2 separate regions of the Homo sapiens genome follow, and region 1 is linked to region 2. Evidence: fine-mapped expression QTL. Tissue or cell type: tibial nerve. Region 2 holds a variant in brackets; the other region holds the start of a gene. All regions are shown on one strand. Distances are between the middles of the regions.

Region 1 (8,097 bases), 440 kb after region 2:
GGGCATAGAGGTGCTGTCATTGTCTGTGTCTTTTTCTTTTCCTAGGGTCTGTTTATGTAACCAACTGTTGGTATTTTTCCATTGCCTCGTGATGGAAATTCAACGGGGGGCAGTCTCTGAGAGAACACCCAGCTACTACTGGGCGCTCAGAAAATGTGGCTGCCTGGGTCTGTGCTGGGTGCATGGGAGACGTCCCAGGTGCAGGCTACTGAGGCTGCTCTGCTGTGGTGACAACCCCCAAATCTCAGTGGCTTCAAACATCAAAGGTTTATTATTTATTTATTTATTTATTTATTTTAAAGACAGAATCTCGCTCTGTCTCCCAGACTGGAGTACAGTGGCATGATCTCAGCTCACTGCAACCTCCGCCTTCCAGGCTCAAGCGATTCTCCTGCCTCAGCCTCCCAAGTAGCTGAGATTACAGGTGCCGACCACCATGCCCGGCTAATTTTTTTGTATTTTTAGTAGAGACGGGGTTTCACCATGTTGGCCAGGCCGGTCTCGGAACTCCTGACCTCAAGTGATCCGCCCTCCTCGGCCTCCCGAAGTGCTGGGTTTACAGGTGTGAGGCACTGCACCAAAGGGCGCTTACTTCTCTGTCCCACTGCACGTCCCTCGCTGGTTGGTGAGAACTCTACACCACACTGTCCTCACTCAGGGACCCAGGCTGACAGAGCTACCACTCTCTGGGGCACTGCCAGTCACTTGTGGCAAAGGGAAGGGTGTGTGGCAAGTAGCTCACTGGCTCCTAAAGACCTCTGCCCAGGAGTGACAGGCATTCCCTGTGCACGTCCCACTGGCCGAAGCGGATCGGGGGGAAGGTGCAGCCCTGCCGTGGGCTCATAGCATCGGGATACTGACGGCCAGCAAAGGAGCCCCGCTCACCACTTCTTCAGAAGCATGCCGGCCTCAAACCACTTACTGGCACCTCCTGGGAAGGAGGGTGGGTTGTGCACGTGGTTGTGACTTCAGGCAGCTGCACTCATCCCCCACCTAGACGGAGGCTCCAGGCCTCAGGCAACGGAAGCAGCAGGAGCAGCCCTGTTTATTGACAAACTGGGACCCTCCAAGGCTCAGTCCTCAGAGGCAGAGTGAATGCATAGTCTGGAAAGAGGACAGAGAGTTCCGGGGCCACACCAGGCACAAGGCTGGGCTGCCTGAGCTTGCTGGATGTCCATCCCGTTCCTAACCTTACATTTGCAGACCCCATCCACTGCATGCTGGGCAGGCGAGACAGGCTGCCACTCTGAGATTAGACGGCCTGGCTCCTCCCAAAAGACAAAGGACGCTGGTAAACTCAGCCTACTCTTCTCTCTCATGCAGCCTTCCTCAGGGCTGCAATGACAGCATCTTAAACTCATTTGGCTGAAAGAAAAATTACAGTAGCAGGCCAGGCATGGTGGCTAACGCCTGTAATCCCAGCACTTTGGGAGGCTGAGGCAGGTGGATCACCTGAGGTCAGGAGTTCAAGACCAGGCCAACATGGTGAAACCCCATCTCTACTAAAAATACAAAAATTAGCCAGGTGTGGTAGCACATGCCTGTAATCTCAGCTACTCGGGAGGCTGAGGTACAAGAATTGCTTGAACCCGGGAGGTGGAGGTTGCAGTGGGCTGAGATCGCACCACTGCACTCCAGCCTGGGCGACAGAGGGAGACTCTGCCTAAAAGAAAAAAAAAATACAGTAGCCCCCTGTCATCCACAGGAGATATGTCCCAAGACCCTGCATAGATGCCTGAAACCAAGGCTAGTATTGGATCCTGCATATGCCATGTTTTTTCTACACATACATATCTGTAATATAATTTAATTTACAAATTAGGCACAGTAAGAGATTAACAACAACAATAAAGTAGAACAATTTTTTTTTTTTTTTTGAGGCAGAGTCTCGCTCTGTCACCCAGGCTAGAGTGCAGTGGTGCGATCTCAGCTCACTGCAACCTCTGCTTCCAGAGCTCAAGCGATTCTCCTGCCTCAGCCTCCTAAGTAGCTGGGATTACAGGCGCGTGCCATCATGCCCAGCTAACTTTTGTATTTCTAGTAGAGACGAGTTTTCACCACGTTGGCCAGGTTGGTTTCAAACTCCTGATGTCAGGTGATCCACCCGCCTCGGCCTCCCAAAGTGCTGGGATTACAGGTGTGAGCCCCCACACCCAGCCAAAGTAGAACGGTTTTAACAATACACTCTAATAAAAGTTATCACACACTGTGACCATACTTTTGCAGTTTGAGGTGTGACAGCAAAACTGGCATGAGGCTGGGGTCAGTGGCTCCCGCCTGCAATCCTAGTACTTTGGGAGGCCAAGGTAAGTGGATCACCTGAGGTCAGGAGTTCGAGACCAGCCTGGCCAACATGATGAAACTCCATCTCTACTAAAACTAAATTAGCCAGGCGTGGTGGCAGGAGCCTGTAATCTCAGCTACTCAGAAGGGTGAGGCAAGAGAATCGCTTGAACCCGGGAGGCAGAGGTTGCAGTGAGCCAAGATTGCACCACTGTACTCCAGCCTGGGTGACACAGTGAGACTATGTCTCAAAAAAAAAAAAAAAAAGGCAAAAAAAACTAGCACGAATTTCTTTTTCTTTAGAATTTCACAGATAGAAGATTCAGCATATGACTGTTTTCTTCCCATCTTTTCACTTAAAGGAAGCACCTTACGGTTTCTCTTTGGCATATCCGAACAGCCAGCATCACTACCAGCATCACTACTCTGGTGCTTTGGGGCCCTAATGAAGTAAAAAAAGACTGACCTGAACAGAAGCACTGTGATACCAGGACGGGCGATCTGACGACTAAGTGACTGACCGGCGGGGAGCATCTACGGCCTGGACGTGGGGAACACAGGGACGGTTTGCATCCCAGATGGCACGGCAGAGACTCTCCATCACACTGCTCAGAACAATGCACAAGGGAAAACTTGGGAACTGTTTGAAGAATTTTCCATTTAATATTGTCAGACCGTGGTTGACCGCAGATAACTGAACCCATGGAAAGTGACACCGTGGATAAGGGGGGACTACTGTGGACAGCTTTCCTGGGTGATTGGGAGACGTTTTTCTGGTAGAACACCAGGGCAAGGCTTTTCTGAGGATGATCTACGAATTCTCCCCAGAGCACTTCAACCTCCCAAACCAAGCTCTGCGGCTGTGCCATTGCACAGTCTTCCCACAGCAGAGAGGTGTGTTTTATTTAAGGCACAAGACTCTGGAAGAATGGGCTTTGTATTTATTTATGAGACAGAGTCTTGCTCTGTCACCCAGGCTGGAGTGCAATGGCGCGATCTCAGCTCACTGCAACCTCTGCCTCCCGAGTTCAAGTGATTTTCCTGCCTCAGCCTCCTGAGTAGCTGGGATTACAGGCATGCGCCACCACGCCCGGCTTGTATTTTTAGTAGAGACGGGGTATCCCCATGTTGGTCAGGCTGGTCTTGAACTCCTGACCTCAGGTGATTCACCCACTTGGGCTTCCCAAAGTGCTGGGATTACAGGCGGGAGCCAACATGCCCGGCCAAGAATGGGCTTTAGTATCTGACATTTGGCCAGAGTGATCAGGCATTTGCTCTCATCTTAGAGCTTCCAGATAATCACATAATTTGTAAAATGACATTTATAAAGAGACAATATGTTTCATACCTGTCATGGATACTGAGAGAGAGAGAGAGAGAGAGAGAGAGAATACGACTGCTTCCCAAACTCGTGGTTGCCAGCGTGACTCTGGGCCAGGCCTGCCTGAGCCTGGGCTCCTTTGGGAGTCTAGAAGTAGATGCGGCAATGGTGGCCCCCTCCTGGAAGCCACCCCACAGCCATCCCTACCAATCACAAGAAGGCTTACAACGCTCTGGGATCCCTACAGGGATGCCAACTCAAATGGATGTTTCTGCTGAGCCAGGAGCACACACTGGGCCAGCAAAGCCCACGCCAAGCGAAAGGAGAGCCTGGGCCTATGGGATACAGAGTTCTCTTTGAATAAACTACCTGCCCCATCTGGCAGGAGTCTGCCTGGCTGCATCCCTTCCCATGAGGGCTTCTGGAATGTGCAGGGGCAAAAACACTGCTGCACAGACATGCTCCTGGCAAGGGGTCCTGCTGGTGCCTTGTCAGGTTCTGGAGTGGTGTGAGCTGCACAGCATCGGTCCCCCTTGCTGCTCATGCCATCCGCCTCTCCTTCTCGCAACCTGCCTTCCAGGCAGTTGTGCTGTGAAGACCTGGGCGGCCTGGGTGCAGCAAGCTCTCCTGAGGCTGAGTACATGCAGCAAGAAGGCCGGCACACAGCCCCGCATCGTCTTCTGAGCCTGCCTGCTGCATCGCGCTTGGGTCAATCCCTGGCCCAGCTAAGCATCTGCAGCCAGGGGAGGATGAGACTAGGAAAGGGGCCTCCGGTCACATGGTTCAGTCCAGGAGACAAGAACTTTTCCAGAAGTCCATACGACCCGAGTGTGGGCTTCAGGTCTCCAAAAACGATAATCACAAGCTGGGCATGGGGCAGTTCTCTTTTCCCACTTGGGACCAAAGCCACCAGACTTTCTGGTGTCTGAAGTACACATTGATCTGCTCTCTGTCTACAGGTGAACCACAGATGAGCCTGCTGACCAGCAGGCTGGGCTACTGTGCTCTCATGCTCTCTCTCTCCCACATGGACATTTGTAAATAGCTCCCAGGTGGGTCAATTTCGGAAGGCACTCATTTGGGATCTGGCTGACGGCTCCTGGCTGCATTATTAGAGTATGTTCTGAAGGTAAGTTCTTGGCCGAGATGGGACCTCACAACAAGCACTGCTTGAAAGCTGTCCACTGAACGGTCCAGGGAAAGGATGACCCACAGATGGTGTCAGGAATGTTAATCAGGTAAAATTCACAGCAGTCGTTTGGCGAAAGAGTTTGCTGTCTAAGATTCCTTCTGGTTGAGGTGTCTCCGGAGCATGACCAGAGCTGCCCCGACAGCTGCATCCACATCCTGCCCAAAGGACATGGGCAAAGGGAAAGCCCTCTGCACCTCCTGCTTCAGCACGTCATTCCTGGACAGCGCACTCCCACTGCCCATCACCCTCTCCACGCCCCACTCCTGGAGCTGCTGAATCGGAAGCATGGAGTGCAGGTTCTGAACAATGCCTCGGCACAGAGCCCGGGTCACGTGCCCCAGGGAGAGGTCGGAGGAGGAGATTCTGGTCACTGAGGCCAGCTGGTCCGGCAGGTGCCTCTCCCCCAGCACTGTCGGGGTGATGGTCAGGTGGGTATCTCTCTGCTGCACAGCTGCCTGAATCATGCGTGAATACACAGTGGATTCTTCAACCTCCAGGCCTGCCAGAGACAGAGAAGATCTGTGTAAGCTCATGCGTCCCCCTCAGTGCAGGCTGACATGGCAGAGAATTCCCACAGGGTGGGAACAGCGCTACTTGCTGCTTCTCCTCCCGCTGCAGCTGGTGGTTCTGGGCTCAGGGACTGCTATAGCCAGGCTAGCTACACTCTGCCCTGGATCCCCGCCCGCTGTCTCAGTGCAGACCCCAGCCAGACATCAGGGTGAGGTCTCATTAAGTGCTGCCATGAGCCCTACCCCTAACACAGGCTTCTTAACCAAGGGGACCAAATGCATATACAGACTAATAACTATCATTGGCTGGGCGTGGTGGCTCACGCCTGTAATCCCAGCACTTTGGGAGGCCAAGGCGGGCAGATCACCTGAGGTCAGGAGTTCAAGACCAGCCTGGCCAACGTGGTGAAACCCTGTCTCTACTAAAAGTACAAAAATTAACCGGGCGTGGTGGCAGGCACCTGTAATCCCAGCTACTCAGGAGGCTGAGGCAGGAGAATCACTTGAACCTGGGAGGCAGAGGTTGCAGTGAGCGGAGCTTGCACCACTGCACTCCAGCCTGGGCAACAAGAGCAAGACTCCATCTAAAACAAACAAACAAACAAAACTATCATCATGGATGTCATTGGGGTCGTTAGCAGCATCAGAAATCCCAGGATCCAGGACCAATCACTGAATGGGCCACCCTCGTTATGTGCACAGGGCACCTGAAATCCAAGGAAGAAGGATGAGTTGACCATCCTACAACTTGCTTTTCAGTGTCAAGCCAGAATCCCGATCGGACTTTTCTCCCTGACACCACGTTAGCTCTGCGGGTTTTTTTTTTTTTTTTTTTTTTTCTGAGGCTCGCTGTGTCACCCAGGCTGGAGTGCAGTGGCACATATCCTATCGGCTCACTATAACCTCTGCCTCCCGGGTTCCAGCGATTCTCCTGCCTCAGCCTCCCAGGTAGCTGGGATTACAGGCCCACACCACCACACCTGGCTAATTGTGGTATTTTTAGTAGAGACAAGGTTTTACTACATTGGACAGGCTGGTCTCAAGCTCTCGACCTCAAGTGATCTACCTGCCTCAGCCTTCCAAAGTACTGGGGTTACAGGCATGAGCCACCATGCCCCGCCAGCTCTGCATTCTTAAAACAAACAAACGAAAAAAAAAAAAAGGCCAAGCGCGGTGGCTTACGCTGTAATCCCAGCACTTTGGGAGGTCAAGACAGGCGGATCACTTGAAGTCAGGAGTTCCAGACCAGCCTGGACAACATGGTAAAACCCTGTCTCTACTAAAAATACAAAAATTAGCCAGGTATGGCAGTGTGTGCCTGTAGTCCCAGCTACTTGGGATGCTGAGGCATGAGAAACGCTTGAACCCAGAAGGCAGAGCTTGCAGTGAGCTGAGATGGTGCCACTGCACTCCAGTCTGGGTGACAGTGCGAGACTCAGTCTTAAAAAAAAAAAAAAAAAGCCTTTGGTTTCGATACACTTTGACCTTAGAATCACTTTTGATCTATAACCTCGCATGACCTGAGGGAAAGCAAACATCACCTTGATAAGAAGAAAGTTATCAACATCAGGGTTTCTTGAGAGCACTGTGGGCCCCATCTCCAGACTTTCTGATTTAACTGGTGTGGGTTGCAGGCTGCGGGCTGGAATTTGTAAACACTTGCAGTTGATTCTTATACACAGCCACGCTGGGGAGCCCCCGACCTAGACCTAGGGCTTCTCCAGCCTAGGGCTTCTCCAACCTGAACATACAGATGAGTCACTCAGGGATCTTTTTTTTTTTTTTTTGAGACGGAGTCTTGCTCTGTCACACAGGCTGGAGTGCAGTGGCGCGATCTCGGCTCACTGCAACCTCTGCCTCCCAGGTTCAAGCAATTCTTCTGCCTCAGCCTCCCGAGTAGCTGGGACTACAGGTGCATGCCACCACTCCAGGCTAATTTTTGTATTTTTAGTAGAGACGGTGTTTCACCATATTGGCCAGGCTGGTCTGGAACTCCTGACTTCGTGATCCGCCCACCTCGGCCTCCCAAAGTGCTGGGATTACAGGTGTGAGCCACCACGCCCAGCCAGGGATCTTTTTAACACATAGCTTGGACTCAGATTGCCTAGGGCTGACCCTAACATTCTGCATTTGTTAAAAGCTCCCAGAGGAAACTGTACTCCAGGCCAGTAGACCAGGCTTTCTGAGGAGACAGTTCTAGAGCAGTGCTTATTAACACTTCAGGCCTCAGAATCACCTGAGGAACTTTTATAAAACTCATGCTCAAGGCCCACACCCCAGGTCCAATAAATCAGCATTTCTGGGCGTGGGACCAGGATGCAACGATGTTTTTAAACTCCACAGTATTTCCAGGGTGTGGTCAGTGCCAAGACCCACCAATCTAGAGAGTCACTGAGGAGTCACGCCATGGGAATGTTTAACCTCTGCAAATGCACAGGTGCAGTGGTATTATTTCAGCTCACTGCAACCTCTGCATCTCGGGTTCAAGTGACTCTCCTGCCTCAGCCTCCCGAGTAGCTGGAATTACAAGCGTGTGCCACCACACCTGGCTAACTTTTGTATTTTTAGTAGAGACAGGGTTTCACTATATTGGCCAGGCTGGTCTCGAACTCCTGACCTCAGGTGATCCGCCCGCCTCAGCCTCCCAAAGTGCTGGGATTACAGGCATGAGCCACCGCGCCTGGCTATTTTATTTTTTAAATCATGTGCTTATCTTTCTTTAGTAAAAGTTCAGGAAAAAAAGTTTTCTTTTTTTTTTACAGACAGGGTCTTGCTATGTTGCCCAAGCTGGA
Region 2 (8,102 bases):
GGCAGTAGCCTGCTGACATAGTTTGGATATTTATCCCTGCCCAAATCTCATGTTGAATTGTAATCTCCAGTGTTGGAGATAGGGCCTGGTGGGAGGTGCTTGGGTCAGGAAGGCAGATTCCTTACGGTTTGGTGCACGCCTCGTGATCATGAGCGAGTTCTTGAGAGATCTAGTTGTTTACGTGTGTAGCACCTCCCATAACAACTGTCTTTCTCTCCCACTTTTGCCATGTGAAGTGTCTGCACCCTTCTGCCAGAGGAAAAGTTCCCTGAGGCCTTCCCGGAAGCAGATGCTGATGTACAGCCTGCAGAACTGTAAGCCTATTAAACCTCTTTTCTTATAAATTACCCAGTCTTGGATATTTCTTTATAGCAATGCAAGAGCAGCCTAACATGGAAAATTGGTATTGAGAAGAGGGGAATTTCTATAAAGATACCTGAAAATGGCTACATCTGAAAATGTGGAAGTGACTTTAGAACTGGGTAATGGGCAGAGGATGGAAGAGTTTGAAGGGCTCAGAAGAAGACAGAAAAATGTGGAAAAGTTTCGAACTTCTTAAAGACTGGCTAAATCGTTGTAACCAAAATACTGATGGTAATATGGACAGTGAAGTCCAGGCTGATGAGGATTCAGATGTAAATGAGGAACTTACTAGAAACTGGAGCAAAGGTCACCCAGTTTATGCCTTAGCAAAGAGCTGGGGTGCATTGTGTTCATGCTCTAGGGATCTGTGGAAGGTCGAACTTGAGAATGATGACTTAAGATATTTGGCAGAAGAAATTTCTAAGCAGCAAAACATTGAAGAAATTGCCTGGCAGCTTCTAACAGCCCACACTCAGATGCAGGAGCAAAGAAATAACTTAAGGTTGGAATTTATATTTAAACAGGAAGCAGAATGTAAAAGTTTGAAAAATGTGGAGCCTGGCTATGTGGCAAAGAAAGAAAGAACTTTTTATGGAGAGGAATTCAAGCAGGCTGTAGAGCAACCACTTGCTAGAGATACTTGCATAACTAAAGGGAAGGCAAGTGCTACTATCCAAGACAATGTGAAAAAGTCCTTGAAAGCATTTCAGAGACCTTCATGGCAGCCCCTCCCATCATGGATCCAGAGGCCTAGGAGGGAAGAATGGTTTCTTGGGCCAGGCTCAGGGTTCTGCTGCCCTGTGTAGCCTTGGGACACTGTTCCCATATCCCAGCCACTCCAGCTCCAGCTGTGATTCAAAGGAGCCCAGGTACAGCTCATGCTGCCACTTTGGAGAATGTAAGCCATAAGTCTTAGTGGCTTCCATGTGGTGTTAAGCTTGCAGGGGCACAGCAAGAGTGAAGGAGGCTTGGCAGCCTTCACCTAGATGCCAGAGGATGTATGGGAAAGCCTGACATCCAGGCAGAAGTCTGCTGCAGAGGCAGAGCCCTCACAGGGCAGTAAGGAGAGGAAATGGGGGATTGGAGGACCCATACAAAGTGTGCCCACTGGGGCACAGCTTAATGGAGCTGTGGAAAAAGGGCCACCACCCTGCAGACCCTAGAATGGTAGATCCACTGGCAGCTTGCACCCTATACCTGGAAAAGCCACAGGTACTCAACTCCAGGCCATGAGAGAAGCCACAGGGGCTGAACCCTGGAAAGCCACAGTGGTAGAGCTGCCCAAAGCCTTGGGAGGCCATTCCTCATATCAGTGTGCCCAGGATGTAGGACACGGAGTCAAAGATTATTTTGGAGCTTTGAGATTTAATGACTGCCCTGCTGGGTTTCAAGCTTGAGTGGAACCTACAGCTCCTTTCTTTTGGCCAATTTCTCCCTTTTGCAATGAGAATGTTTAACCAATGCCTATAGCCCCATTGTATCTTGGAAGTCCATAACTTGTTTTTGATTTTATAAACTCAGGTGGAAGGGATTTGCCTTGTCTTGGATGAGAAATTGAACTTTTGGAACAAGTTAAGACTTTGGGGGACTGTTGAGAAAGCATGATTGTGTTTTGCAATGTGAGAAGTACATGAGATTTGTGGGGGACCAGAAATGGTATTATATAGTTTGGATATTTGTCCTTGCCCAAATCTCATGTTGAATTATAATTTCCAGTGTTGCAGATGGGGCCTGATGGGAGGTGTTTGGGTCATGGGTGGAGATTCTCCATAGCTTGGTGCTTTCTTGTGATAATAAGTGAGTTCTTGCAAAATATGATTAAGTGTGAAGCACGCCCCTTCCCCACCTCTCTCTCTATTGCTCCCATTCTCACCATGTAAAGTGCCTCAAACTTCCACCATGAGTAAAAGCTATCTGAGGCCTCCCCAGAGGCAGATGCCAGTGTTATGCTTCCTGTATAGGCTGCAGAACCATGAGCCAATTAAACCTCTTTTCTTTTAAATTATCCAATCTCAGGTATTTGTTTATAGAAATGCAAGAACAGCCTAATACACCTGTCAGTATTTCTTATGGGCCTGTGGTGGTGGTGGACATGGGGAGAGACTCCTCTGTCTGAGGAAAGGTGGGGGAAGAGTGGGAAGGCCTTTTTCTTGTGGTTTGGGTGTCATCTTCAGATGCAGTAAATTGAGCACCAGGTAGATTTCTAAGGCTTCCAACTATAGGCCCTGGCTCCCAGATGGCATCTCTGGACTCACCCAGGGCCTGGGTGACTTGGCAGTCCAAAGTGAAGAAGACAAGCCTGGTTGTCTTTACCACCTGCTGACTGTAGAGCCCTAGGGCCTTGAGCAAACACAAGTGGTAGCCAAGGAGTGGTAACAGTGGGTCTTGGATGATACCCAGTGCTGTGCTGTCTTCAGGTCTGACCCAGCACAGCCCTAGTGGTGGTGGCCACAGGAGTACTTGTGTTACCCCTCCCCCAGGAAGCTCAGGAAGCTTCCAGGAAGCTCAGCACAGAGAAGGGGAGAGAGAGATTCCATTTGTTTTGGAAAAAGTAAGGGAAGAGATCAAAAGTTTCTGCCTGGTACTCCAGATAATCCTTCTGGACCTTATCCAAGACCACCAAGGAGGTAGGTACCTCTACAAGTTGGCAAAAACCACAGCATTACTGAGCTTGAGGTGCACC[C/T]TAATGCAGATATGGCTGCAGTGACAAAAAAAAATGTAGATCACAACACCCAAGTCCCTTCAAATACCTAGAAAGCATTTCCAAGAGGACAGGTACAAACAAGTCCAGACTGGCAAGACTACAATAAATATCTAACCCTTCAATCCTCAGCCACTGAAAAACTTCCACAAGCATCAAGACAATCCAGGAAAACACGGCCTCACCAAATGAACTACATAAGGTAAGAGGAACCACTCCTGGAGAAACAGAGATATGTGAACTTTCAGAGAGAGAATTCAAAATAGTTGTTTTGAGGAAACTCAAAGAAATTCAAGATAACACTGAGAAGGAACTCAGAATACTATCAGATAAATTTAACAAAGAAATTCAAATGGATAAAAAGAATCAAGTAGCAATTCTGAAGCTGAAAAATGCAATTGACCTGCAAAAGAATACAGCAGAGTCTCTTAATAGAAAAAATGATCAAGCAGGAGAAAGAAATAGTAAGCTGGAAGACAGGGTATTTGAAAATACACAAAGGAGGCAAAAAAAAAAAAAGAATAAAAAAGAATGAAGCATACCCACAGGATCTAGAAAATAGTCTCAAAAAGGCAAATCTAAGAGTGATTGGCCTTAAAGAGGAGGTAAAGAGATAATGATAGAAAGTTTATTCAAAGGGATAATAGCAGAGAATATCCTAAACCTAGAGAAAGATATCAATATACAAGAAGGTTGTAGAAAAGCAAGCAGATTTAACCCAAAAAAGACTACCTCAAGTTATTTAATAATCAAACTTCCAAAGATCAAAGATAAAGAAAGGATCCCAAAAGGAGCAAGAGAAAAGAAAAAAATAACATACAATGAAGCTCCAATATATCTGGCTGCAGACTTTTCAGTGGAGAAAAGGGTAGGAGAGAGTAGCATGATATATTTAAAGCACTGAAGGAAAAAACAAAGTTTACCCTAGAAGAGTGTATCTGGTGGAAATATCCTTCAAATACTAAGGAGAAGTAAAAACCTTCCCAGAGAAACAGCTTGCTGAGGGATTTCATTAACACTAGACCTGTTCTACAAGAAATCCTAAAGGATGGTCTCCGATCTGAAAGACAAAGATGTTAACGAGCAATAAGAAATCAGCTGAAGGCACAAAACTCAGTGCTAATGGTAAGTACATAGAATATTAATTGTGGTGTGTAAATTCTTCTGATCTTAATTAGAAAGACTTAAAGAAGAACCAATCAAAAATAATTACCAAAACAACTTTTTAAGACACAGATAGTACAATAAGATATAAATAGAAACATCAAAAAATTAGAGAGGTGGAGGGATGAAGTTAAAGTGTAAAGTTTTTATTCATTTTCTTTTTGCTTGTTTGTTTATGCAATCATGTTAAGTTGCCATCAGTTTAAAATAATAGGTTATAACACATTATTTGCAAACCTCATGATAACCTCAAATCCAAAAACATACAATGGATACACAAAAAAATAAAAAGCAAGAAATTAAAACATACTATCAGAGGAAATCACCTTCACTAAAATAAAAAAAAGGAAGGAGGGCCAGGCGCAGTGGCTCATGCCTGTAATCCCAGCACTTTGGGAGGCCGAGGTGGGTGGATCACGAGGTCAGGAGATCGAGACCATCCTGGCCAACATGGTGAAACTCCATCTCTACTAAAAATACAAAAATTAGCCAGGCATGGTGGCGGGCACCTGTAATCCCAGCTACTTGGGAGGCTGAGGCAGGAGAATCACTTGAACCTGGGAAACAGAGATTGCAGTGAGCCGAGATCGTGCCACTGCACTCTAGCCTGGCGACAGAGCAAGACTCCATCTCAAAAAAAAAAAAAAAAAAAAAAAAGGAAAAGATAGGAAGGAAAGTAAGACCACACAACAACTATAAAACAAATAATAAAATGGCAGTGGTAAGTCCTTACTCATCAATAATAACACTGAATGTAAATGGACTAAACTATCCAATCAAAAACATAGAGTGGCTGACTGAAAAAAAGCAGGACCCAGTGATCTGTTGCCTACAAGAAACACGCTTCATCTATAAAGGTACACAGAGACTGAAAATAAAGGGGTGGAAAAAGAGTAGGAGTGGGTATATTTATATTAGACGAAATAAATTTCAAGCAAAAACTATAAAAAGAGACAAAGAAGGTCATTATATAATGATAAAGGGATCAATTCAGCAAAAGGATATAACAATTTTAAATATGTATGCACCCAACATTGGAGCACCTAGATATATAAAGCAACATTATTAGAGCTAAAGAGAGAGATAAACCCCAATGCAATAATACTGGAGACTTCAACAGCCCACTAGCATTGGACAGATCTTCCAGAAAGAAAGTCAACAAAGAAACTTCAGACTTAATCTGCACTATAGACCTACATGGATCTAATTGATATTTATAGAACATTTGCTCCAATGGCTGCTGAATTCACATTCCTCTCCTTAGCACATGAATCATTCTCAAGGATAAACCATATGTTAGGTCACAAAACAAGTCTTAACACATTCAAAAAAACTCAAATAATATCAAGTATCTTCTCTGACCACAATGGAATAAAACTAGAAATCAATAATGAGAGAAATTTTTGGAAAATATACAAATATATGGAAATTAATATGCTCCTGAATGTCCAGTGAGCCCCAACTGGTTAGTACTAAAAAATGCCCAGGCTACAGCATCACAAGGTAAAATGGGAACCCAATCCAAAGTGGGGTGGGTCGCTTTACTGTGGGGGGCTCCCTATCACTGAAAGCCCTAAACAGGCAAAACAGCCTCTACCAGCACTTTGGGAGGCTGAGGTGGACAGACACCTGAGGTCAGGAGTTGGAGACCAGCCTGGCCAACATAGTGAAACCCCACCTCTACTAAAAAATACAAAAATTAGCCAAGCATGATGGCGGGTGCCTGTAGTCCCAGCTACATGGGAGGCTGAGGCAGGAGAATCCCTTGAACCTGGGAGGCGGAGGCTGCAGTGAGCCGAGATGGCACCACTGCATTCCTGCCTGGGCAACAAGAGTGAGACTCCATCTCAAAACACAACAAAACAAAAAAAAACAAGAAAAATGAACTCGATTGCCTTCCACAGCACCCCTAATTCCAATGCGCATCCTTCTAGCAAAGGGGAGAAGAAGAGGAGTCAGAAGTAAGGGAAAACAGGGGGAGGAGCCAACAAGGCCGAATAGGAACAGCTCCGGTCTACAGCTCCCAGCGTGAGCGACGCAGAAGACGGGTGATTTCTGCATTTCCATCTGAGGTACCGGGTTCATCTCACTAGGGAGTGCCAGACAGTGGGCGCAGGCCAGTGGGTGCGCGCACCGTGCGCAAGCCGAAGCAGGGCGAGGCATTGCCTCACCTGGTAAGCGCAAGGGGTCAGGGAGTTCCCTTTCCGAGTCAAAGAAAGGGGTGACGGACGCACCTGGAAAATCGGGTCACTCCCACCTGAATATTGCGCTTTTCAGACCAGCTTAAAAACCGGCGCACCACGAGACTATATCCCACACCTGGCTCGGAGGGTCCTACGCCCACGGAGTCTCGCTGATGGCTAGCACAGCAGTCTGAGATCAAACTGCAAGGCGGCTGCGAGGCTGGGGGAGGGGCGCCCACCATTGCCCAGGCTTGCTTAGGTAAACAAAGCAGCCGGGAAGCTCCAACTGGGTGGAGCCCACCACAGCTCAAGGAGGCCTGCCTGCAACTGTAGGCTCCACCTCTGGGGGCAGGGCACAGACAAACAAAGAGACAGCAGTAACCTCTGCAGACTTAAATGTCCCTGTCTGACAGCTTTGAAGAGAGCAGTGGTTCTCCCAGCACGCAGCTGGAGATCTGAGAACCGGCAGACTGCCTCCTCAAGTGGGTCCCTGACCCCTGACCCCCGAGCAGCCTAACTGGGAGGCACCCCCCAGCAGGGGCACACTGACACCTCACAAGGCAGGGTACTCCAACAGACCTGCAGCTCAGGGTCCTGTCTGTTAGAAGGAAAACTAACAAACAGAAAGGACATCTACACCAAAAACCCATCTGTACATCACCATCATCAAAGACCAAAAGTAGATAAAACCACAAAGATGGGGAAAAAACAGAACAGAAAAACTGGAAACTCTAAAACGCAGAGCACCTCTCCTCCTCCAAAGGAATGCAGTTCCTCACCAGCAACGGAACAAAGCTGGATGGAGAATGACTTTGACGAGCTGAGAGAAGAAGGCTTCAGATGATCAAATTACTCTGAGCTACGGGAGGACTTTCAAACCAAAGGCAAAGAAGTTGAAAACTTTGAAAAAAATTTAGAAGAATATATAACTAGAATAACCAATACAGAGAAGTGCTTAAAGGAGCTGATGGAGCTGAAAACCAAGGCTCGAGAACTACGTGAAGAATGCAGAAGCCTCAGGAGCCGATGCGATCAACTGGAAGAAAGGGTATCAGCGATGGAAGATGAAATGAATGAAATGAAGCCAGAAGGGAAGTTTAGAGAAAAAAGAATAAAAAGAAATGAGCAAAGCCTCCAAGAAATATGGGACTATGTGAAAAGACCAAATTTACGTCTGATTGGTGTACCTGAAAGTGATGGGGAGAATGGAACCAAGTTGGAAAACACTCTGCAGGATATTATCCAGGAGAACTTCCCCAATCTAGCAAGGCAGGCCAACGTTCAGATTCAGGAAATACAGAGAACACCACAAAGATACTCCTTGAGAAGAGCAACTCCAAGACACGTAATTGTCAGATTCACCAAAGTTGAAATGAAGGAAAAAATGTTAAGGGCAGCCAGAGAGAAAGGTCGGGTTACCCCTCAAAGGGAAGCCCATCAGACTAACAGCTGATCTCTCGGCAGAAACCCTACAAGCCAGAAGACAGTGGGGGCCAATATTCAACATTCTTAAAGACAAGAATTTTCAACCCAGAATTTCATATCCAGCCAAACTAAGCTTCATAAGTGAAGGAGAAAAAAAATCCTTTACAGACAAGCAAATGCTGAGAGATTTTGTCACCACCAGGCCTGCACTAAAAGAGCTCCTGAAGGAAGCGCTAAACATGGAAAGGAACAACTGGTACCAGCTG

What was found. PIP is the estimated chance that this variant, and not a neighbour inherited with it, causes the effect.
Region 1: it holds the start of TRPV1, and the variant in region 2 is fine-mapped to the expression of TRPV1 in tibial nerve (GTEx, PIP 0.95).

The regions. Positions count from the first base shown.
Region 1 is chr17:3,605,678-3,613,774 of GRCh38, forward strand. TRPV1 (transient receptor potential cation channel subfamily V member 1) reads right to left here and starts at 3,734. Exons shown (of 17, transcript NM_080704.4): 1 at 3,632-3,734; 2 at 2,750-2,888. It overlaps SHPK (sedoheptulokinase), which reads right to left. Exons shown (of 7, transcript NM_013276.4): 7 at 2,563-5,295. The coding sequence ends at 4,883. RefSeq lists an enhancer at 3,624-4,125.
Region 2 is chr17:3,170,329-3,178,430 of GRCh38, forward strand. It overlaps LOC100288728 (a long non-coding RNA gene), which reads right to left and starts at 6,607. Exons shown (of 4, transcript NR_147912.1): 1 at 6,548-6,607. The variant C/T (reference allele first, on the strand shown) is at 3,047.